7 linked regions of the Homo sapiens genome follow. The protein of the gene in region 1 interacts with the protein of each later gene in a pairwise test. Each region holds a gene or a part of one and is shown in the gene's direction. Other genes may lie near its edges. The genes, in order: PRPF18, TRIM23, ZNF526, FXR1, HMBOX1, IKZF3 and HSF2BP.

What was found.
Region 2: the proteins of PRPF18 (region 1) and TRIM23 interact in binary tests that used the Homo sapiens proteins (3 or more experiments, as listed by UniProt).
Region 3: the proteins of PRPF18 (region 1) and ZNF526 interact in binary tests that used the Homo sapiens proteins (3 or more experiments, as listed by UniProt).
Region 4: the proteins of PRPF18 (region 1) and FXR1 interact in binary tests that used the Homo sapiens proteins (3 or more experiments, as listed by UniProt).
Region 5: the proteins of PRPF18 (region 1) and HMBOX1 interact in binary tests that used the Homo sapiens proteins (3 or more experiments, as listed by UniProt).
Region 6: the proteins of PRPF18 (region 1) and IKZF3 interact in binary tests that used the Homo sapiens proteins (3 or more experiments, as listed by UniProt).
Region 7: the proteins of PRPF18 (region 1) and HSF2BP interact in binary tests that used the Homo sapiens proteins (3 or more experiments, as listed by UniProt).

The regions. Positions count from the first base shown.
Region 1 is NC_000010.11:13,589,965-13,593,464, forward strand, and holds part of PRPF18 (pre-mRNA-splicing factor 18), read left to right. Parts: intron 1-1,803; exon of another isoform or gene 1,804-1,903; coding exon of another isoform or gene 1,904-1,924; intron 1,925-3,500.
Region 2 is NC_000005.10:65,593,334-65,596,833, reverse strand, and holds part of TRIM23 (E3 ubiquitin-protein ligase TRIM23), read left to right. Parts: intron 1-302; coding exon 303-413; intron 414-2,188; coding exon 2,189-2,313; intron 2,314-3,500.
Region 3 is NC_000019.10:42,223,312-42,226,006, forward strand, and holds part of ZNF526 (zinc finger protein 526), read left to right. Parts: intron 1-903; 5' UTR 904-994; intron 995-1,075; 5' UTR 1,076-1,092; coding exon 1,093-2,695. UniProt on the Homo sapiens protein: May be involved in transcriptional regulation.
Region 4 is NC_000003.12:180,968,170-180,971,669, forward strand, and holds part of FXR1 (RNA-binding protein FXR1), read left to right. Parts: coding exon 1-85; intron 86-1,988; coding exon 1,989-2,189; intron 2,190-2,905; coding exon of another isoform or gene 2,906-2,986; intron 2,987-3,500. UniProt on the Homo sapiens protein: mRNA-binding protein that acts as a regulator of mRNAs translation and/or stability, and which is required for various processes, such as neurogenesis, muscle development and spermatogenesis.
Region 5 is NC_000008.11:28,893,395-28,896,894, forward strand, and holds part of HMBOX1 (homeobox-containing protein 1), read left to right. Parts: intron 1-3,500. UniProt on the Homo sapiens protein: Binds directly to 5'-TTAGGG-3' repeats in telomeric DNA. Associates with the telomerase complex at sites of active telomere processing and positively regulates telomere elongation.
Region 6 is NC_000017.11:39,854,313-39,857,812, reverse strand, and holds part of IKZF3 (zinc finger protein Aiolos), read left to right. Parts: intron 1-3,500. UniProt on the Homo sapiens protein: Transcription factor that plays an important role in the regulation of lymphocyte differentiation. Plays an essential role in regulation of B-cell differentiation, proliferation and maturation to an effector state.
Region 7 is NC_000021.9:43,631,989-43,635,488, reverse strand, and holds part of HSF2BP (heat shock factor 2-binding protein), read left to right. Parts: intron 1-2,067; coding exon 2,068-2,217; coding exon of another isoform or gene 2,218-2,226; intron 2,227-3,500. UniProt on the Homo sapiens protein: Meiotic recombination factor component of recombination bridges involved in meiotic double-strand break repair.

The DNA.
Region 1 (3,500 bases):
GTGGATGTTAGGAAGGGCCAGGGTGTTGAAATCTAAGTGCTTTAAAGGGAAAAGTGAATCACAAAATATTCAGCCCACCCTCAAGGTTCACAACATGAATATTTGCATAATCATGTTCTTCGTCATTGAAATGCACCAATCTACAAAAATGATCATTAAAAAAAAAACTTTAGATTCTTCAGGGTCATTTATAATTTATAATATATAAACTTTTCCTGGGTGTCTTTCATTTTTTAATTTGGTAGTTGATTGAATTATCACATAATTCCAGCCAGAAGATAAGATTGATTTTTTCAATCACAGAGCAGTTCAGACCAACAAAGGGCGTACATGAAATGGGAATTAAAATACTGACATTCGGCCGGGCGCGGTGGCTCACGCCTGTAATCCCAGCACTTTGGGAGCCTGGGGTGGGCAGATCACGAGATTGAGACCATCCTGGCTAACACGGTGAAACCCCATCTCTACTGAAAATACAAAAAAAAAAAATATATATATATATATATATTAGCTGGGCATGGTGGCAGGTGCCTGTAGTCCCAGCTACTCAGGAGGCTGAGGCAGGAGAATGGCGTGAACCCGGGAGGCGGGGCTTGCAGTGAGCTGATATTGTGCCACTGCACTGCAGCCTGGGCGACAGAGCGAGACTCCATCTCAAAAAAAAAAAAAAAAAATACTGACATTCATAGTTTATATTAGCAGTAATGTTAGGCATCATGCAATATGTGTTTTCTAACTTGTACAACAAGTTGCCATTGTTCCCATTTACAGATGAGGAAACTGGAAGCTAAGAGAAGTTACATGACTATAGGATTATGCAGCTAGCAAGAGATAGAGCCTGGATTTGAACCCTGGTCTGTTCCTACTTCAGAGCCTGATCTGTTAACCTGTACAGATAGAATGGATATTTATTCACCTTACAAACATAGAACTAGTTTTGATAGGGCTAATGTAACAAAGCACTGGAAAATTATTAGACTAACATGATTTATATTTTTCAAAGTGCTATATGCTATCTGATTTGAGCTTTACAACGGTTAATTAGTGCACAAGGCAATGCTGTTTTCATGGATGATGAAATTGAGGCTTAGAGGGTTACACGATGTTCTCATATTCCTGTGGCCAGCCGGGATAGATCTCAAGTCTTAGACCAACTTGAGGGTGAGTGCTCTTGCATGATGTAAGGGAACATACACAACTAGGCGTCTTTTCTGTTGTATCCATGGGAAGACAGTCTTTAGATCTGCAGCTCTATCATTTCATGCAGAATAGTTGCTTTATATTTTTCATCTTTCTGCATCACAGTGTCTGTCAGTAACTTACAGACTTTTTCACTGCCCCGTTCATAGCAATACATTTTTATATATTGATCTGATATGTATGTGAAAAAAGTTTTATGAAATAATTCTTACAACCACAAATGATTTTATCATGTTTTATTCAGTCCTCCTTTTTTGTTATCAGTTATTTAATTAGGTTCTTCTTAAGAAATGTAGAACACCAATTTGTGAGGATAAATTCCATGAGTCGGGGCAAACACAGATCGCAGGTAGTCCTGGAGCTTAGGAATAGCTTTGATTTTTGGTAAAATTTGTGACTCCACAGCTTTCTGATCAATCTTGTGCTGCTCTGTAATCTTGTATTTATCTTTTTCTGTGCTGAAGATCTCAGCTTCCTGGTGTCTGGGCTTCTGCAGCTGCTGCTGCTTGAATAAGCATCAGTGGGATGTTTTGGGATTTTTACATCGCTGATAACAATTTTGGTTGAGGTGGCAATGACAGATTTCTGGTGTTTTCTTCATAGAGGAACTCGATTGAGGACCAGAGGTCCAGTCACAAGTAACAAGCCACTAGCCAGGTGCTTCAGGAAGACCGCCCTCTTGCCTCTGTGGAATCCAGTGAGGATGATCAGAACGTTCCCCGGGGTAATGCTGGTTCGCAGTTTTCTCACGTGTCAACTGAGGGTTTTTTTTTTTTTTTGCCATGGCTCAACAGCTTTTGAGGCACATCTTCAGTAGGAAAATATCTAGGCATTTTATGAAGTTTAACCACCTGGGTACTACCATTCTTGTCACCACCAACTGGTTTTGTAACAGTTGCAAGAACCTTCTTTTTCTTTTCAACCTCGTACTTAGCGGCTGAGTACTTCCTCTTATACACAGCTTTTCTGGAATACATAGCACATCGGGAATACCTGCCAATTCCTCTGACAAGGACAGGGTTGTGCTGCAATGGGGCTTCCCCTTCTTGGGCTTCTTAGCCTTGAGGTGACCCTTTTTCACCTTGTCACCAGCCTCAGCCTTCTTGGCTTTGGGTTTCTTCTCTTTAGTATCCGGCTTCTCAACTTTTTCACCCACCATCTTACAAGATGGGGAAGAGCAAGTCCCTTTGTTTTAATTTTTTAGAAAACACGGGTCAGGGATCAGTAGATTGTTGTCATTACCGCATCTGTAGCTGGAAAACAGTTGTCTGTGTGGTGTTGCTCTTGCAGAAAGAAGAGCCACCTCATCTTTGGTCATTTCAAGTGGTGTCCCAGCTTTTTGTGGTTAATCTGTGATAGTTGAAATAATCAGTACTTAGCTTGTGAGTGCCTCTTTCTCAAATTGCAGAGAAGTGACTAAGATATCCTCTTACCACCTGTCCTAAAGTGCCCTGCCTGGTGTAACCACCCTGAGGTAAATGTGTCTGCATTGCTAGAACACCAGTGTTTTGGAGCCTAGAATTGGTGAGTTTTCATTTAATGCAAAACCTCGTGTGGAAAACCAGGCTGCTCTAGAAACTCAATGGGGAGTAATTAGTAGTTTTACTAGTTGTAGTTATGAGGATGAGCTATGTGCAGAATTTTAGCTTTTTTTCCTTCCAGTATTTACTGCATCTTTCCTATATGCAAGATACTATGCTGTGCTGCAGTAACAATGCTACAATAATCAAAACAGCATAGCGCTGGCATAAAGAGCAACAGCTAACACCACTAGAGTATAACAGAGCACCCAGAACGGAGCCACCCTTACACAATTATTGATTTTTGACAAATACACTAAAACCAAATGGAAGGAAAGATATTTTCAGTAAATGATGCTGAACAACTGGATATCCATACGGAAATAATAAGCAACAACCCCTACCCCACATTATACAAAACATTCTGAAATGAAGGACCAATGGAAGGAATGGCAGGAACCAACATGGGAGACATTGGAAAATAAAATTAGTAAGGAAAACTGTATACTAGTTCTAATACATTGGAAAATCTAAGTGAAGTAAATGGCTAAAAAGTACAAAAAAATACAAGAAATAGAAAATCTAAGCAAACCAGTAAGTGAGGAAGACATAAGAAGAATCTGTCAGCTAAGAGGAGAAAGTTACTGAAGGAAGGAAGGAATGAGCAGTTAAATCGAAGACTGGATGAGATCAGTCAGAGAAGTCTCTTTGGATTTGTATCTTAGACATTATTTATGACCCCAAGGAGGTTTTTTCAGTGAAACAGAATGGATGTCCACA
Region 2 (3,500 bases), on another chromosome or scaffold:
GGAATAGAGGATTGGTGATCCTGGCTGAGGGTGTGGGGTGGGGGGTAGTTGTGGAACAGAGCTGGAAGGTACATGGATCCCAAGGTCCTAAGGACCTTGGTGGAGGTTTAGAGGGCTAGGAGCTGTTACAGGTATACATTCACCACGTAGGAGTAGGAATGGGGTTGATTAGGCTTCAGTAGATATTGCTGCATGTAGATAATTTGATAAGTCACAGTTATAAACTGGGGGTTGTCTGTGTTTGATATGTCATTCATTGTAAATACAAATATAGTATAAAAGTAACTTTTTTTTTAAAACAGGTTTTAACGTGGAAACTGTAGAATATAAAAATCTAAAATTCACTATTTGGGATGTAGGTGGAAAACACAAATTAAGACCATTGTGGAAACATTATTACCTCAATACTCAAGGTGAGAGTTAAAAATGACATTTAATTTTTCACATTTTTAGGATGACAGTTTTCAGTGTACTGATTTAACTAGCAAAGCTGATACTTATGATTAAGTCGTTGACTGTATACTTAAGTACCTGTGGCCAGTTTCTTAACTTGTAAAAAATGAAAGTAGAAAGATTAGGATATATACTTTTAGTTTATTCCTGATATACCATTATTACAGAATAAAAACCATACGTAGCTTAGATATGTAGTCAGTTAAGAGTACTCTTGCTTCTCTTAACAGAGAGTGTATATTACCAGTATTATATGGGTGTGACTGCTGGTAGCGTAGTGGTATAGAGTTGAATTTATGTTGTATGATTCTGCTGAATTCAGTTAAACTCAACATTTATCCCATTATAATCTCACTATAGCCCCACTCCCACATTTCTTTCACAAATAGTTATTACCTGCAGAAGAACTTACAGTAGCTTGCTTTTGACCAAACCGTATTATATCATATCTATACTCTACATAGGTTTTAGTCACATTTGGGTCTTACTCTACACTTCTGCCTCATAGACCCCAACATAATGCTTACGCTCATGCCGCTTATTCTGTATGTTATTCTGCTTTCCACCAAGATGAGAGACTGAATAATTATTTTTACTTTGGGATTTTTGATATTATTATGAGCCATAATTAATAGAAAAAATGTATTTTTTTTTTGAGACAGAATCTTGCTTTGTTGCCCAGGCAGGAGTACAGTGGCATGATTGCATTTCATGGTCACCTCTGTCTCCTGGGCTCAAGCAATCTTCCCACCTTAACTTCCCAAGTAGTTAGGACTAGGTATATGCCACCACATTCAGCTAATTTTTTTTTTTTTTTTTTTTTGAGATCGAGTCTTGCTCTGTCGCCCAGGATGGAGTGCAGTGGTGCGATCTCGGCTCACTGCAAGCTCCGCCTCCCAGGTTCACGCCATTCTCCTGCCTCAGCCTCCTGAGTAGCTGGGACTACAGGTGCCCACCACCATGCCTGGCTAATTTTTTTGTATTTTTAGTAGAGACGGGGTTTCACCATGTTAGCCAGGATGGTCTCCATCTCCTGACCTCGTGATCCGCCCGTCTTGGCCTCCCAAAGTGCTGGGATTAGAGGCACGAGCCACCGCGCCCGGCCACATTCAGCTAATTTTTAATTTTTTTTTAATAGAGATAAGGTCTCACTATATTGCCCAGGGGTCTCGAACTCCTGGGCTCAAGTGATCCTCTCACCTCAGCCTCCCAAAGTGCTGGGATTATAGGTGTGAGCCACTGTGCCCTACAAAAATGAAATTTTGAATATGAGGAATGGTTGAAAGTCTGGAGATAGTTAACTTAGACATAATACTTTGGAGAAATAAAAATGGTGATGGTTTTTATCTTTTAGTCTTTTATTCAAAGACTAAATATTAGAAAAGTAGTATTCGAAGAACAAGTAGCATCCATAGGTAGAGGATCATGAGGCATATTTTGAAATTCGTTATGTAAAAAGTTATTTGATATACAGACCAATTTGCATTTGATAGAGCAAGTGTTGTAAATCCTTTCCTAGATGGGGAAACTAAACCTGAGAAGTTATGTAAACTACTTGAAATCATACTGTTAATTATTTGTAGGTGCCCCTGCCATACTAGGCACCCTCTGTGTGAAAATAATGATGGTAGACAAACTCTAACCATAACATAATAATGATATCATTAAATATTTGGTTCATTTACTGAACTTTAGCAAGTGACTATTTTTGTTTTTTTTATTTTTTTTTGGGTAGCTGTTGTGTTTGTTGTAGATAGCAGTCATAGAGACAGAATTAGTGAAGCACACAGCGAACTTGCAAAGTTGTTAACGGAAAAAGAACTCCGAGATGCTCTGCTCCTGATTTTTGCTAACAAACAGGTAATGCATTTTTATATTGGAATATTTATTTTAGTAGTTTTGTGCATGTCAAAAGGCAACTGGAAATATTTCAGAAGACAATCAGTTCAATAGATATTTATAGTTTCTTCTGTGTATTTTGAGTACAATCTATGTGAAAATGCTGTGCTGGGTACCTGGGAGTATACAAAATAGAAATAAGGTAGTTAATGCTCACCAGAAACTCCTGTGTATGCATATGAACACATAAGAGATCTGAATACGAAGAAGACTGATAAGTAACTTAAGTAACACAGTGTTACGGGAATTAGGAAAGTAGTTCTAAATGTGGCATGTTGTAAGATTGTAAAATGTAGAATTTGAGTTGAAATTATGCATGAGGCTGAGTCAGTATGTGAAAGGAAGAACATTATAGACAGAGAAGATAATAGCATGAATGTTTTTAGTTTAGGGAACATCAAGCAGATCTATATGTCAGGTCTCAGTAGAGGATGAAGAGAATTTAGAATAACAGACAAGGCCATGCTGTAAAGGTCTGACAGTGCTAGACTGAGAAATTTAGGTTTTATTCTATGAGCAAGGAGGAGTCATCAAAATGTTGGATTAGTGGGTAATAAGATCATATCAGTGTTTCAATACTATAATTCTAGGGGTAGAATGAATCAGGGCAAAGGACTGGAGACAGGGAGATGCAGTAAATTGCTTAAATAATTCAAGTGAGCATTAACAAGAGCCTGAATTAGAGGAATAGAAAGGCGGAGGCAGATGGAAAAGACTTTGAGGCAGAACTGGTGACTGAATGGGGAGGATGAAGGACTGGGAGTAGCTGAAGATTCCTAGACCTTGAGCCTTTCTAGGAGGATGAGATGCTTTTAAGTAGAGGCAGAAGGAGAGTAGAAGTGGAGCAGAGGAGATGTCATGGGAGGGGAAGAGTAGGATGAAGAATAAAGAATTTTCCCCTTAATAAAAAAGGCAAACTATTAAGAACTGGTATATTTAAGACATGCAAATAAGTCAGTGAAATACCATTTTCTGCTCATCAGATAGTTAAAGATGAAAGTGTTTTATAATCCTCAGACTTATATACAACTGTTACTATTATTATTTTGAGACTGAGTCTTGCTCTGTCACCAGGCTGGAGTGCAGTGGCACAACCTCTGCTCACTGCAACCTCCCCCTCCTAGGTTCAAGCGATTCTTCTGCCTCAG
Region 3 (2,695 bases), on another chromosome or scaffold:
TCTTGGCCAACATGGTGAAACCCCATCTCTACTAAAAATACAAAAATTGGCCGGGCGTGGTGGCTCATGCCTGTAATCCCAGCACTTTGGGACGCCCAGGCGGGCAGATCACGAGGTCAGGAGATTGAGATTGTCCTGGCTAACACGGTGAAACCCTGTCTCTACTAAAAATACAAAAAATTAGCCGGGCGTGGTTGCAGGCGCCTGTAGTCCCAGCTACTCGGGAGGCTGAGCCAGGAGAATGGCCTGAACCTGGGAGGCAGAGCTTGCAGTGAGCAGAGATTGCACCACTGCACTCCAGCCTGGGCGACAGAGCGAGCCTCCATCTCAACAATAACAACAAAAAAATACAAAAATTAGCTGGGCATGGTGGCGCACACTTGTAGTCCCAGCTACTCGGGAGGCTGAGACAGGAGAATCACTTGAACCTAGGAGGTGGAGGTTGTAGTGAGCCGAGATTGCGCCACTGTACTCTAGCCTGGCAACAGAGCAAGAGTCCATCTCAAAAAAAAAAAAAAAAAAAAAAAGAGGCCGGGCTGTTGGCCGGGGTGGTGGCTCACATCTGTAATCCCAGCACTTTGGGAGGCCAAGGCGGGTGGATCACCTGAGGTCAGGAGTTCAAGACCAGCCTGGCCAACATGGTGAAACCTTGTCTCTACTAAAATATATATATATATATATATATATATATACAAAAATTAGCCAGGCATGGTGGCACACCCCTGTAGTCCCGGCCACTCAGGAGGCTGAGGCACGAGAATAGCTTGAACCCAGGAGCGAGAGGTTGCAGTGAGCCAAGATTGTGCCACTGCACTCCAGCTTGGGTGACAGACCAAGTCTCTGTCTCAGAAGAAAAAAAAAAAAAAAAAAGAGGCTGGGCTGAGTGGTGTTTCTCTCCTGCAGGCTGCCGTGGGGTGTGTGTAGGCTTCAGAGACATGGGATCACGGAAGACTGAAGCAGAAACAGTGGATTAAGACTTCCTGAGCGATAGCTGGTGAGTAGTGGGATGTGCAAGAGAATTCCACCTCCCCTTGGTTTCCTGCTGTCTCACTGGCTCCTGCCCCTCTTTCTCCAGGCACTGCCTTCCCCACAATGGCAGAGGTGGTGGCTGAGGTGGCCGAGATGCCAACACAGATGTCACCAGGGGCAGTGGAGATGTCAACACCTATGTCGGCAGAGATGATGGAGATGTCAACAGAAGTGACTGAGATGACACCTGGGGAGGCCCTTGCCTCATCCCTCTTCTTCCAGCATCACCAGTTCATGTGCTCTGAGTGTGGCAGCCTCTATAACACACTGGAGGAAGTCCTCTCACACCAGGAGCAGCACATGCTTGCTGTCTCAGAGGAGGAGGCACTGACCACACAGAATGTTGGCCTGGAGCCGGAGCTGGTGCCGGGTGCTGAGGGGCCCTTCCAGTGTGGTGAATGCAGCCAGCTCATCCTCTCCCCTGGGGAGCTCCTGGCCCACCAGGATGCCCACCTCCGAGAGTCTGCAAACCAGATCCAATACCAGTGCTGGGACTGCCAGGAGCTGTTCCCCTCGCCCGAGCTGTGGGTGGCTCATCGAAAGGCCCAGCACCTTTCTGCTACGGTAGCTGAGCCACCAGTGCCACCTCCTTTGCCTCCCCCAACACCACTGCCTCCACCTTCTCCCCCATCCGAAGTCAAGATGGAGCCCTATGAGTGTCCTGAGTGCTCTACCCTCTGCGCCACCCCTGAGGAGTTCTTGGAGCATCAGGGCACCCACTTTGACTCCCTAGAGAAAGAGGAGCGCAATGGGTTGGAGGAGGAGGAAGAGGACGATGAGGAGGATGAAGAAGATGATGAAGAGATGGAGGATGAGGAGGCCATGGCAGAGGTCGGTGATGATGCTGTGGGAGGTGACGAGTCCACAGCTGGCTGGGCTCAGGGCTGCGGGGACTGTCCCCAGCACCAGCCCTCAGCAGGGGCTCGCCGGCAACACCGGCGGACGGCTCACAGCCCGGCATCTGCCACCCACCCCTTCCACTGCAGCCAGTGTCAGCGCAGTTTCAGCTCCGCCAACCGGCTGCAGGCTCATGGGCGGGCCCATGTTGGTGGCACACATGAGTGTACAACCTGCTCCAAGGTCTTCAAGAAAGCAGCATCGCTTGAGCAGCACTTGCGGCTGCATCGCGGGGAAGCCCGCTACCTCTGTGTAGACTGTGGCCGCGGCTTTGGCACAGAACTCACGTTGGTGGCTCACCGGCGGGCCCACACTGCCAACCCATTGCATCGCTGTCGTTGCGGCAAGACGTTCAGCAACATGACCAAGTTCCTCTACCACCGGCGCACTCACGCCGGCAAAAGCGGGGCACCTCCCACAGGAGCAACAGCTCCCCCAGCTCCAGCGGAGCCCACCCCTCCACCACCACCCCCTGCCCCACCTGCCCAGCTGCCCTGCCCACAGTGCTCCAAGTCCTTTGCCTCAGCTTCCCGGCTGTCCCGGCACCGGCGTGCAGTACACGGGCCCCCTGAACGGCGTCACCGCTGTGGGGTTTGTGGCAAGGGCTTCAAGAAGCTGATCCACGTGCGCAACCACCTGCGGACACACACGGGTGAGAGGCCCTTCCAGTGCCACTCATGTGGCAAGACCTTTGCTTCTTTGGCCAACCTCAGCCGCCACCAGCTGACCCATACGGGTGCACGTCCCTACCAATGCCTGGACTGTGGCA
Region 4 (3,500 bases), on another chromosome or scaffold:
AGACGCCCAGGAGGAAGAGGCAGAAGTGTTTCAGGGGGTCGAGGTCGTGGTGGACCACGTGGTGGCAAATCCTCCATCAGTTCTGGTAGTCTTTTCTATACTCTGTCAGCATCCATTATTTGTAAACAGTTTAATTTTACAAAAGTTAATTCATCTCCCAGGGCCACCCATTTTTGGAAGTTTCTCTTGCTACTCATTGTCTTAGAGAAAGTAGTGGACCATATAGCAGTATCAGGAAAAGCCCTCGTAGAGTGTTTCTCAGTGAAGGTTTACTTAGAATATACTGGTCAGAACTTTAGTTGGCAGCTTTTCTTTATATGATGAGGGTCAGATGTTTCTCTCTTCAGGTTTTGGAGGCTTATTTAATTAGAATTTTTTTTGTTTTCCCTAGAATTTTGGGGTTATGTTTTTTTGTTTGCCAGACAGACCCAGAGATTTCTAATGCACAGAGAGATGTCAGTACTTTTCTATACTTAATATTGAAAACGAAGTGAAGAGCATTCTTAGCTACACTATGTAGTACTTTGGGAACAGGGAAAAATTGTGGAATTAACTAAGTTTTTTAATTGTTGGAGGAACTGTGCTGTAAAGAGGAGTGTTTGGATGACTAAAGATTTGAGGGTGTAGGAAACGTTTTACTTAATTACTTCTGTCTTCTAAAATTTTTTTATGCTTTACATTAAGTTGTAGGAGTTTCCAGAATATCCTTGGTTACCATAACGGGCTAGGGAGTTAATTGCCAGGGATAGATACATAGACTATATTAAGGATATAACTTTAACATATCATTATGGTATACCACGTTAAGAAACCCGCACCTTCCTTAATGTTATACCCATGAAAACTTATGTAGTATTTTAATATTATAGAAAGTGTGTGTAGATACATTAAATATAGATGCCAACTGTGCTTACAAATTACAAAAACTGGAACAAATCAGGGCAAAAATTAGGAACTTGTTCTTTGTTTGTTTAGATTTTCTCCCTTTCCACAGTAATACTCTTTGAGCCTTAAGTTTAGTTTACAGGCTTTCAGGGTAATAGTTTTTATATTTTAGTACACTTTGTACAGTTACCAAGGTGTTTAAAATTACAGTATACTGAATTGCAAAATAAATGTACTTGACCTAGTGTTTTATGATTAATGGATACGCTTAGTGTCTTTTGCAAAGATGCTTAGCTTGCTAGCTGTTACCAAAGGAATCTTAGGAAAAATCGGAATTAGGTGAATTTCTTCTATAAATTTGATTGTTGGAGGTAATAAATGCACATAGGTAAGATGGGTATTTTTCTTATGAATTGTACCTTACAGTTTTTCCTTTTCCACCTTCACATCACCTTCCATAATGTTTCTAAAGATGGAGTACTAGTCAGCATTCGTTTCAACATTTTCCTTTCATAACCAGTTAGAAGTTCAACCTTATTTAATTGGCTGCTTTGTTTCAACTTGTCTTGATTGCTTCAGTTCAGTTACGGATTTCTATTATGTCATGGAATGCAGGTATTGAATATTATTTGGGAAACAGTCCATCAACATCAACACAACAAAGCTGCAGTCATTTTGAACTCAGTTAAGGGGATGAAAGCTCGCTCTTATAATTATTTCTTAACAGCTGAATATTTGTTTCTTTTCATTTTTGTTTTTCTAGTCTCTGGGCAGGATTACCTTGAAATGTGAATGCAAGAATTAGCATTTAATACACTATTTTCTAATGTATATTTTAAAAACAAGGCACAGGAAATGTTAGGAAGCCAAGATGTCTGCTTACTTTCTGCTTTAATTTTTCATCACCACTTAAAGTTTTATCATATTTAATTATCTTTGTTATTTTCCAGGTAAATAATATTGAAAACATTTTATTTGAAGACAGTGCATTTTTATTGGGGGAGACTGAAGTTTATTTGTCATTGATATAGTTCAATATAGATCAAACATTCATAATTGCAGTACTCTTAAACGAATATTTCTTGCCTCTGACATGAATATAGTGCTCAAAGATCCAGACAGCAATCCATACAGCTTACTTGATAATACAGAATCAGATCAGACTGCAGACACTGATGCCAGCGAATCTCATCACAGTACTAACCGTCGTAGGCGGTCTCGTAGACGAAGGACTGATGAAGATGCTGTTCTGATGGATGGAATGACTGAATCTGATACAGCTTCAGTTAATGAAAATGGGCTAGGTATGTAAGCACTTAGGGAAGAGAAATATATATATATATATATATATATATATATATATATATAATTGTAAACTATTGTTAGTATATGAAGCTTTTTTCAAAGAAATATGCAATTCACAAATTGACTTTTTCTTAGTGTTTACTTTGAACAAGGTAGATAGCTTTTTGTCTATCTTAAATGTTTAGTTCTCAGATTTGTTATAGCCAAATTATTTGAAACTTGGAGGGTTAAAGTGCCCTTTGATGCCATTAAATCAGTACAAATATTCAGCTGGCAAGGTACTTAGTGCTTTTATTGTCCCCAAGCTAAAATCAGGCTTTCATCTTGCCTCTTTTAAAATAATTATAAATGACACTGGTAAAGGTACATATATCAAGAGTAGGCATTAATTTTCAAGGGCTAAAATGTCATTAACTTCGGTATAAACCAAACTGTACTAGAGAGGAAGACTGTGTCCCTGAATGATGGCAGTTTAAGTCTGAGTTTTACTGTGAGTTAAAACCCTCTGAATTTCCAGATGATAATTCCATTTTTAATCCATTTGGAATGCTGAAAGCTACAAAAATGTATTTCCTGTCAGTAAACATTTGTTGTTTTATTTTTGTGTTTAATTAAAAGTTTATTTTTCCCCTTTAAATCTTTGAAGGAAAGAAGGTTTTTTTGTTTTTTTGTTTGTTTTTGTCAGAATAGTTCATGGTAAACTTTGCAATTACAGATGATAGTGAAAAAAAACCCCAGCGACGCAATCGTAGCCGCAGGCGTCGCTTCAGGGGTCAGGCAGAAGATAGACAGCCAGGTAACTTGAGTGGACCTGTGGACACCATCAGGTCACAAGCATGAAAAAAATGTCTATGTCTGCTTTCTAAATATATTATACTTACATGTACACATGTGTGCATATACATTCAAAATTTGCATTGCATAAATTGTTTATTCAACTAATAAGACTACTACTATTAAGAAAATGCATTCTTCCTTCACAGTGTGTTAGTAACTTGTCTAATTGAACTAATGTTGTGTCCTAATTGTTTACATGGAAATACTGTTGAGAAGACCATTTTGTTCACTTGGCAGTTTCTTCACACTTGAGATGGGGCCTGCCATCCGAGGGACTGTGTTGTAGATTGTGATCAAGGTTGATTGGCAAAACTGGGCAGCTTTTGCATGGTGCCTGCTTACTATATCTGAATTCAGCACCTCATTTTTGTGGGAGTTGTAATACCCACAATTAAAAAAAAAGTATAAAAGAGAAAAATATTTGAAGGTGTCTTTAACCTAATGCGAGGAATGCATGTTGTTTTTGTTTGTTT
Region 5 (3,500 bases), on another chromosome or scaffold:
ATTGCTTCTAAAGATGTTGCCTGTATTATGGGAAGTTGAAAATCTAAGCTGCTTTTAACTAATCTGTTGCTAGTTTAGTTTACTGCATTTAGTGAACACTATGTATGGTCACAAATACGCATCAAGGAAAGGAGCCTTTAGCTGGAAGTTGAATGCCTTTAGTGAGGCTTCGTTTTCACTGCTGTACAAACAGATTTCAGTCTTCTAGCCCAAATCCTCAGTTAAAACATCGCTAATAGAAACTTAATAGCTCAGTGTTCCTAAGTTACAAAATATGTGGCAACAAATCTGTCATTGTTACATCATTTAAAAAATAGCAACCAGCTTATGGCAATTTTTGTGGCAAGTGTTGATTGGAATTCTATTGCTTGTTTCATAGATATTGAATACATTGGGAATATTTAGGCTTAATTTGTGTATTTTGAGTCTCCTGTACACTGTATTCAGCACATCCCACATTTAGGGCTCCCGTGCAATTTAGTTCTGTTCATTTCATTGTAGCTCTTGCTTCTCTTATTTTTGTATACAGCTCTTTAAACCTGAATTATTTCTCTTGGGAATCAGGTATTTATGTAGAATGTTGTCATAAGTGAAAGTTGGCATACCACTCAACTTTTTAAATACATGAACATTTATAGATAAACCGAATAGTGCTCATTGAAAATGTGTTGGTTTTGTTTGTTTTGTGAACCAGCTTTATTTAGTTCTTTGGCTTCTGGAATTAATTTTGTAGCTCACTTTGCTATTCTTTGGCTAGATTTTTCTGTTAACAGTTGGCTTTTACTTCCCACTGTAGTAGAACTGTAATTTATTAAAGCATTGTTGTGAGTGAAAAGCATGGCTTGTCTAGAGTGCCATATATGTACACCCACAATACACTCATACATAAAATACTTTTATGTTTATTTATTTATTTATGAAATTGGTGTATATCTATCAGACATGCCTCCCATAAGAAAGAATCTGAGCCACAAATAGCAGAAGACCTTGAACTTTGACTGAAGCTAGAAACCAAAGAGTAACCAGCACATGTTGTCCACATTATAGAAGCTGAGGAGATTTTCATTATCATTCCAAACCATTATTTTCACAGATTTTGTTAAAATACAGTTCTCTCAAAATGGAAGCTATTGATATTGAAAGTTTTCTCAAAATATTAGTAAGTAAGACGTAGCATGGATTCCTAGGTGCAGCTATTCCCCCACATTGCCCTTACTGGATTTAGGGCCCATCATAGGCGCAGAGTAAAGATTTTTCCATGGGATTATTTGATGTAAACTTTTAGTTGCAGTGTATTCAAACATAATCCAGTGCTTTAGATAATTTGTTTTCCTTGACCTTAGATGAAACAAGTTGGAAATTTACTATAACATTGTTTTGGACACTTTCCAAGAGCATTTAGCTCCTGGAAGGGCCCTGGCTTTAGCATGGTTTTTACCCTTATAGTGGTAATAAAGTTGAAGTTACATTAAGTTTTTCCAGTGATTAGTGTAATCTTAATGCAATATTTGACAGATTCTTAGGCTATAGTTTTTTTTTAACATTTGCAAAAAAAAAAAACAGTAACAATAGTCTGATTTTAGCTTTGAAGTGATCAATTATTTTAACTTTTTCACCCTTAAAATGGGTGACACTAGACTCCTTCCTGTTAAGTGGTAAAATGATTCTAATCCAGTCAAAGGGCACTTAGGTTTTTCTTAAATTTAGAGTGTGGATTGTGATAAAAATGTTGACTAAATTCCACATGCTGAGTATGTATTCTCTCTGGCTGCTTCTTTGTTTATCTTATGTCCAGAGATGGTCCACATGTGGTGTATTGAAAATATTAGTAGCCTCATTACTGTATACGTATTAAGTAGCGTGGAGTTGCCAAGTGGCAGTAACTTTAATTTGTATCTAGTCACAATTTTTATAGCAAGAAAGTGAAATGCTGTGGGTACTGCTGAAACAGGGATGACTTAAGACTGAATTGTTCTGCTTTAAGATTTTGATAATATAGGCCAGGCATGGTGGCTCATGCCTGTCATCCCAACACTTTGGGAGGCTGAGGTGGGCAGATCACCTAAGGTCAGGAATTCGAGACCAGTCTGGCCAACATGGCGAAACCTTGTCTCTACTGAAAAGACAAAAATTAGCTGGGTATGGTGGTGCATGCCTGTAATCCCAGCTACTCGGGAGGCTGAGGCAGGAGAATCGCTTGAACCTGGGAGGTGGAGGTTGTAGTGAGCTGAGATTGCGCCGCTGCACTCCAGCCTGGGCAACAGAGTGAGACTCAGTCTCAAAAAAAAAAAAATTTTGATAATGTATTGTATTGTTAAAACATGAAATCCTTGGCTTGTGTGTAGTCAGTCAAGCCTTGAAATTGGATGAAGTTCTCACTCTTCATCCAATCGTGAAGTCAAGTTGGTTTCGTATTTTGTATACATTTCTTTCTATTAATGTTCTCTTATTTCATATCTTCATCCTTTCTGGTTTATTGCATCAGTCTCTTAACTAATCTTGTTTGAATTTTTTTCATTAGTCATTCTAAGCTCCTAGTAGGAGTTATCTTGCCAAAATAAAATGTGAATTTGATTGTCAACCATACTTTGCCTGTAATCCTTTAGTGGCTCCTCAGACTTTGACATAAATCAAAAATTGAGAGTCATACCACCTGTGTCCAAATCCTGGTTTTTGCCAGTTACTAGCTATGTGACCTTGGGCAAATCATTTAAAATGTCTGTACCTCAGCTTCCCCATCAATAGACTGGGGATAAAAATAGTACCTACTTCATAGGATTATTGTGAGCCCTTGAAGTGCTGGCAAGTCCTTAGGATGCTTTTGGCATATTATAGTTTACAGGAAGCTGCAAAAATAGAGAGGGCACTGTAACTTTTCCCCAGTTTCCCCTATTGGTTACATCCTACATAACTTTAATACAATATTAAAACCAGGAAATTGACATCAGTACAATGTGTGTGTATAGTTCTATGCCATTTTATCACAGGTGTGTAGATTGCATAATCACCACCAAAATCAAGGTACAGAACTCTTACTGCAAAGATTGAATGATTCTCCTCCTCTTCATAAGTTCTGTTGTTTTGTCAATATAGCTAAGGAGAAAGATAACCAATTATTGGATCAGTAATTTCACTCTTTGCCTTATGTAATACAGTCATGTAGTACATAATGATGTTTCAGTCAAAAACGGACTGAATATATGACAGTGGTCCCATAAGATTATATCATATTTTAACTGTACTTTTTCCAAGGTTTAGAAACACAGATACTTTCCAGTGCGTTACAGTTGCCTACAATGTTTAATACAGTAACATGCTGTACAGGTTTGTAGCCTAGGAGCAATAGGCTATACCACCTAGGCTTGTGTAAGTACACTCTATGGTGTTCGCTCAACAATGAAATTGCCTAATGGTGCGTTTCTCAGAGTGTATCTCTGTCATTAAGTGTTGCATTGGCACATCCTGAAAGTTTTTATGAAAAATTCCACTTAAACTTTCTT
Region 6 (3,500 bases), on another chromosome or scaffold:
GTACCCAACCCAGTCCCCAGCACATAGTAGGCCTGTAGTCATATTTGTTTAATAAATTAATGAATGAGTTGCCTGTGTGTTTGATCATTTGACTCTTTTCTTGCCCAGCTTTTATAGTAAAGGGGGGAAGGAAAATAGAGACATTGAAATTGGTAAATTTTGCTGGCTAATTTGTTAAAGGTACTGTTAAAGGTTTGGTAGAAGAGATTGAAGTATTGGCTAAATCCAATGCGTGAATACGGCCATTTTTCTAATCCATGCCCCCCACAAAATACAATGCCTTCTAACTTTTGGCTTTATTTAATAATTTTGGTACATTTTTTATTTCAGTGAAGCACTGCAGTTTCCACTATAAACCTTTTCTTCACAATAGATGTTTTGATTCTTAAAATTGTTGAACATCACTTAATTTGAATACTCTATCACAGCAACATCAGTTCATTTAAGAAGTAATGTATATTAGAGAGACTATTAATTTACCAGAATATTTGGCACATCAGAACAATTTCCTCTAGGAGTTTGTGGATATGAGAAAAAGATCACTCTCACAAACCTATAACATTTTTATGGATATGGAATTACATCATAACTGATGGAAAATATTGTCCAGTATGAAAACTGGAAGTAACTAATTTTTATAATATATAACAACTAGTCATTTTTGCTGTCATCTACCTCTATCTCTTAGTTAAGAAATCCCTTGACCTAGACTGCTAAAAATCACTAATAGTTGATTTATATGCTTACATACAGTGTAGGCAGTTCCACAAAGGTGCTTCACGGGCTAACTTGATTTAAATTTCATTTGAATTTCACATAAAATTCCAGACTTTAAAGTATTGAAGATGATCAGTGTATAAATTTATCCTCTGACCTCAAAATGAGGCTTTTTTTTCCAAATATTAAAATTTTATAAACATGATGAGTAAAATCATGGTGCTGCTGGTCTTTTTTCTCCTGTGCATATTTTCTCATGTAAAATTATTATTATTATTATTATTATTTTGAGATGGAGTCTCGCTCTTGTTGCCCAGGCTGGAGTGCAGTGGTGCAATCTTGGCTCATTGCAACCTCTGCCTCCCAGGTTCAAGCAATTCTCCTGCCTCAGCCTCCCGAGCAGCTGGGATTACAGGCTCCCGCTACCACGCCCGGCTAATTTTTGTATTTTTAGTAGAGACAGTATTTCACCATGTTGGCCAGGCTGATCTCGAACTCCTGATCTCAGATGATCCGCCCGCCTTGGCATCCCAAAGTGTTGGGATTACAGGCATGAGCCACCACGCTGTAAAAGTTATTTAAGTAAGAATATTATTAACAGTTTGTGACCAGCTGGCCAACATGGTGAAACCTTATCTCTACTAAAAATATGAAAATTAGCTGGGTGTGGTGGCACGTGCCACCACCAGCAAGGCAGGAGAATTGCTTGAACCTGCGAGGCCGAGGTTGCAGTGAGTGGAGATTGCACCACTGCACTCCAACCTGGGTGACAGAGCCAGACTCCGTCTCAAAAAAATAAATAAATAAAAAAGAATATTACTAACTGTCTTATTCCCTGTACTTTATTAAGTGCCTGTAAAGGCTAAGGCTCAGCTGCTTGGGACATGCTTCTGTCACAGTATAGTAATCAACTACTCACTAACAAAGACATGTAACATGTAACCTTACAAGCATTTAAAAGAGTTATTATATACATGTTATATTGTACATATACAATATACATGTTATATTGTACATATACAATATACATGTTATATTGTACATATACAATATACATGTTATATTGTACATATACAATATACATGTTATATTGTACATATACAATATACATGTTATATTGTACATATACAATATACATTGTATATTATAATACATGTTACATCATCATCGTATATTATAAATCTTAAATACTTATAATAAAGTTGGGGCATTTCTTGTTTGATTTTTATGTTCAGAATGAAATAAAATGAATGTTAAATATTTTTGTGATTCAACTTTGAAGCAAAGATTACTTATCATCCTTTCTCAAGTTTCTGGGAGTAGTTTAATTAAAAACTGTTCTGAAATAATAAGGTGAAGCACTCCTGCCTCAGCCTCCTGAGTAGCTGGGATTACAGGCATGTGCCAATACTGCCCGACTAATTTTTCAGATTTGAATTAGTAGGGCTAGGAGACCAGAATGCACAAACAAGTAACAGCTTCTAAGTGTGCCAAGCCAATAGCATAGTATGCACATCTCAATAAAAGGAATTTGGAGATTCTCAAAGGACTCTATAGATATCCATTGCAAACATCAATGACCTAGTATGGACTTAGTTGCCCCAGACCTAAACAACTAGAACATTTTTACACGTAATCCAATTTGGGGAGGGAGATCCAATCTATATAATAGGACAAATAATGACTGAACAAGTTGATATTAGGAATTCATGTAGTGCTTATAGATTTTATAACTACTACTCTACACAATGAGACTTGATGATTACACGATGACCTTGAGGTATTTCACTGTTAGTCTCACATTTCAACAAGAGTTAGGATTAGACACAAAAACAAGACAAAAACTTGTTTTTTTTGCAACAGGACACCGTTTATACCAAAATCTTATGTGGGATCAGATGCAAGTGTAATGTTCCAAATGAGAGATTGGAGAAGGAGCAAGAGACCACTGCTAAGCCTATCTTCCTCTTGCCATAGATCAGCCCTGTGGCAGCCCTCTGCAACCCTGGATTCCATAAAACACATTTTGAAAATGACTGATTTAGACCGTTACATGTTTTTCCTACTAGTAACCCTGTATCTAGACTTGCCTCTTTTAATCTGTTTTGAGGATTGCTGCCAGAATGATCTTCCTAAAACATAAAGTTATTCTCCTACTCAGACACCATTTTAAATATTTTTTGGTTGGACATTTAAGATACTCCACAACACAGCTTCAGTACCTTTCCAGTGGTATCTTCTGTCCTGTAATGTGACTCTGGACTGCTGCTTAGTGTTCCCTGTTCAGGCATTGCTTTCCCTCACTCCCCATTTTTCTAATGCTGTTCTTCCAACTCAACAAGTCCAAAAATGAACTAATTTTCTCTCCAATCCAAACCAACTTCTCCTGACTTCCCAACACTGTTAATAGCACCACAATCATGCCAACTGAAATCCTCACTCATCCATTATGGTCTATCCTAAATGCCATCTCCTTTAGGAAGCCATCCCTCATTCTAAGAGGAATACCTTCCTTTTCTGAAACGTAGTGACATTTTTTGCTGTCTAATGACTTCTAGACTGTAACTCCATTTTATGTTCAAACATGAAGCATTTTTGCATGGTTTTAGTACACTCAAATTTATCTAGGATTGGAATTACCACCTACATTGAGAGAGGATGATTTTTTTTGTTTAGTTTAGAGCTTAGCCACTTTTACCATTATTATTACTGTTTTTCATTTGATCCATGGCTTTATTTCCTTGTTTTTTAAATTTTATTTCCTTGCTTGTTTTTTTTTTTAA
Region 7 (3,500 bases), on another chromosome or scaffold:
TATGTCCATCCTTATAGCAATACCACAATGGTTCTATTTCGGTAGGTTTATAGTTAGTTTTTTCCTCTAAATCAGGCACTGTTAGTCTTCTAACATTGTTCTTCTTTTTCAGACAATTTTTTAGATATTCTGTCTTGAATTTCCATAGAAATTTTAGAATCAGATTATCACTTTGTACAGAAGTCTGCTGAGATTTTGATAGGGATTGTGTTGAATCTGTAGATCAGTTTGGGAAGAATTGACATCCTGCCAATTTTTGAACATGGTGTATCTCTTTATTTAGCTCTACTTTCTCTCAGTAATGCTTTGTAGTTTTCATTGTATAGGTCTTGCACCTTAAAAAATTATTCTTATTTTTGATGTTACTGGGAATGCTATGATTTTCTTTGAGGTTTGTTTGTTTTTTTTTTGATATTATTATACTATGTGTGGAACCCTGCGTTGGGGAATATCCTCCTGCAACTACCAAATGTGACTGTAGTGAGCAAAGTCCTTCCTGGTTCTTCTCAGTAGTCTTTTTGTGGTCGTGCAGAAGAACCACCATATCCTGACTAATTGAGATGCAGACAGCTTAAGTTGTGAGAAAAGCTAGAATTCCAAAAGGAAGTGCTGTGACATAGTTTTCTTCATGTGTCACCATGACTTGTGTTCAGCTACGTACACTGAAAGGATGAATCTAGGAGTCCAGATTGTTGCTATAATGAAGACATTAAAAACCCGGAGCTGACAGATCACATGATGCAGTATTAGCATGTGCCAGAGGCTCAGTGGCCATTTTTTTCTTAAATACATGTGTGCATATACGTATGAATGTGTATGAATCTCTGTGTGCCAAACGCATTGTCTCCAGGTAACTATGAGTGGGCCACCCTAATCCAAGTTATGAGGTCAACAGTTTTGATTTGTGGCTCCAAAGCTCCCTTTTTCCTCCAGGGGGTGAAAAGCCCCCTCTACTTTGTCTTGTATTTATCTCTCTAAAAGAAAATCTACAGCATTTAATATACTTTAATTTTGTGGTTTATGTAACTAATTACATTTGGTATAAATGAATTTAACTGGGGTTTTATATTTTTCAGTTTTTGTCTTATTAAATCAGGAAATGCTATCACCTTTTAAGGGAATTTCAGGTACCTGGTGCTGGTGGTTGGAGAGGACAGGAAGCCCCCCATCACTCTAGCAGTACACTCAAGGTGAATCCTCGAAGTGTGCTTGTGTTGTCAGGAGGGCCATCAGGACGGCCATTCCCTGTGTTTCCCTTGTGAAGAGTGCCATGGTGGAGACTTGCCCAGCTACAGGTCACCTCAGACACTGCTGGTGGGAGAGTAGGAAACTCTTCCTAGCCTCCATCTTCTTCTTAGACTGGCACTGGCTTGCTGCACCAGGGCATGAATAGGACTCCCAGCCTTCACACTTCTTTTTGCCCCTCCTCCCATCTTTCCTACCTGGTCTTAGGTTTTAGGTTTTCTTTCCCTGTTTAGCTTCACAGATTGTATTTTATATTTACTGGCACCTTTGGCAATATTCTCATGAGGAGTTAAGGATACGTTTATACAGGATGAGTTTTTCTAAAGTACTTGTTTTTTTACAAATCCTGATGTCCAAGTGCCTTTTATTTGGTGTCTGCCTCTGGCAGATGGCGTTTTTTCAATGGAGTGAGCCATTTGGAGGAGGCAGTCTCCTGTCTTAGAAATGTTGCTTTCTGGGTAAATTGCTTTGTGAGGTTGTTTTTGTTCAGAAGCCTCGGTTGGTGCTGGTTCTGGGTATAGTTACTTGGGGCTTGAGATATTTCATGTAGTTACTTAAAGCAGATGAATTCAGCTCTGTGGGTTTATCAACCATAATGTGGTAGTATGTTCTTTCCTCAGATATTTCTCAAATATTTTTGCCTTTGAAATTTCTTTTGTAGATACAGATTATGGTTCTCTTAGGACTAGCTTTCATTTGCAACTATTTTCTATAATTATACATGCATTTCTTTAATAAATATCTTTGTGAAAGAGGAAATGTAATAAAGATATATCAAGGTTGAATGCTATTATTTATTTTTCAATTTTGTTTTGCTTTTAGGAGAAACTGGCTCTTCGACAGCAGTTGAATGAAGCGAAGCAGCAACTCCTGCAGCAGGCAGAGTATTGTACAGAAATGGGAGCAGCAGCGTGTACCCTCTTGTGGGGTGTCTCCAGCAGTGAGGAAGTCGTCAAGGCCATTTTGGGAGGAGTAAGTATGGTCAGTGGGCTCTCCAGATATTGTTGATTACTGCTTGTGTAAATTAGAGCATATAGCTTATTAAGGCATTTAAAGACTAAGTCCATATCTTTCCATTTTCTTTTGTTCACTCATCAGCTAGTTATTGAATACTTATCGTATATGGTTCATTGTAACCTGATGCAAAGGGAATGAAATAAGATCCCTTCTCTCCAGGAGACCTTGTGGTATATGTGGACATATTACCACTTCAGTATTAATACTTTACATGTGTTTAAGAAGATCAAAAGTGCTTTTATATATATTATCTCATGGTTAATATAGTATTTATTGAATATTGTGTTATCTAACATATATACATGTATGTAGATGTGTGTGTGTGTTTATACATACACACACACACACATACATATAGATGCAGAACCTTGAGCAACATGGAGGTTGGAGGCGCTGACCCCCTGCACAGTCGAAAAGCCACATAGAACTTTTGACTCTCTCTACTGTTGGCTGGAAGCCTTACTGACAACATAAATCGTTGATTAACACATTTTTTGTATGTTAGATCATCATGAAGGTCTTCCCCCTCATCATCTTCAAATTGAGTAGGCTGAAGAGGAGGAGGAAGAGGAGTGGTTGGGTTGGCATTGCTGTCTAAAGGGTGGTAGAGGTGGAGGAGGTGGAAGGGGAGGCTGGAGCAGCAGACACACTTGGTGTAACTTTTACTGAAGAAAATTCTTGTGTAAGTGGACCTGTGCAGTTCAAACCCTTGTTTTCAAGGTTCAACTGTGTGTGTGTGTGGCAGCGTGTGTGTGTGAGCATGTGTGTTTGAGCATGTGCATGTGTGTGTGACTGTGTGTGTGTGTGGGAGCATGTGTGTGTGGGGGAGTGTGTGTGTGTGGGGGGGGAGCGTGTGTGTGTGGGAGCGTGTGTGTATGGGAGCATGTGTGTGTGGGGGAGTGTGTGTGTGGGAGCGTGTGTGTGTATGTGGGAGCCTGTGTGTGTGTGTGGGGGGAGCGTGTGTGTGGGGGAGTGTGTGTGTGTGTGTGTGAGCCTGTGTATGTGGGATCGTATGTGTGTTTGTGTGGGGGAGCATGTGTGTGTGTGGGGGAGCGTGTGTGTGTGAGACTGTGTGAGTGTGTGTGTGGGAGCGTGTGTGTGTTTGGGGGAGCGTGTGTGTGGGGAGAGCGTGTGTGTGTGTGGGAGCGTGTGTATGTGGGAGCGTGTGTGGGGGGGGAGCGTGTGTGTGTGTGGGAGCATGTGTGTGTATGTGGGAGCCTGTGTGTGTGGGAGTGTGT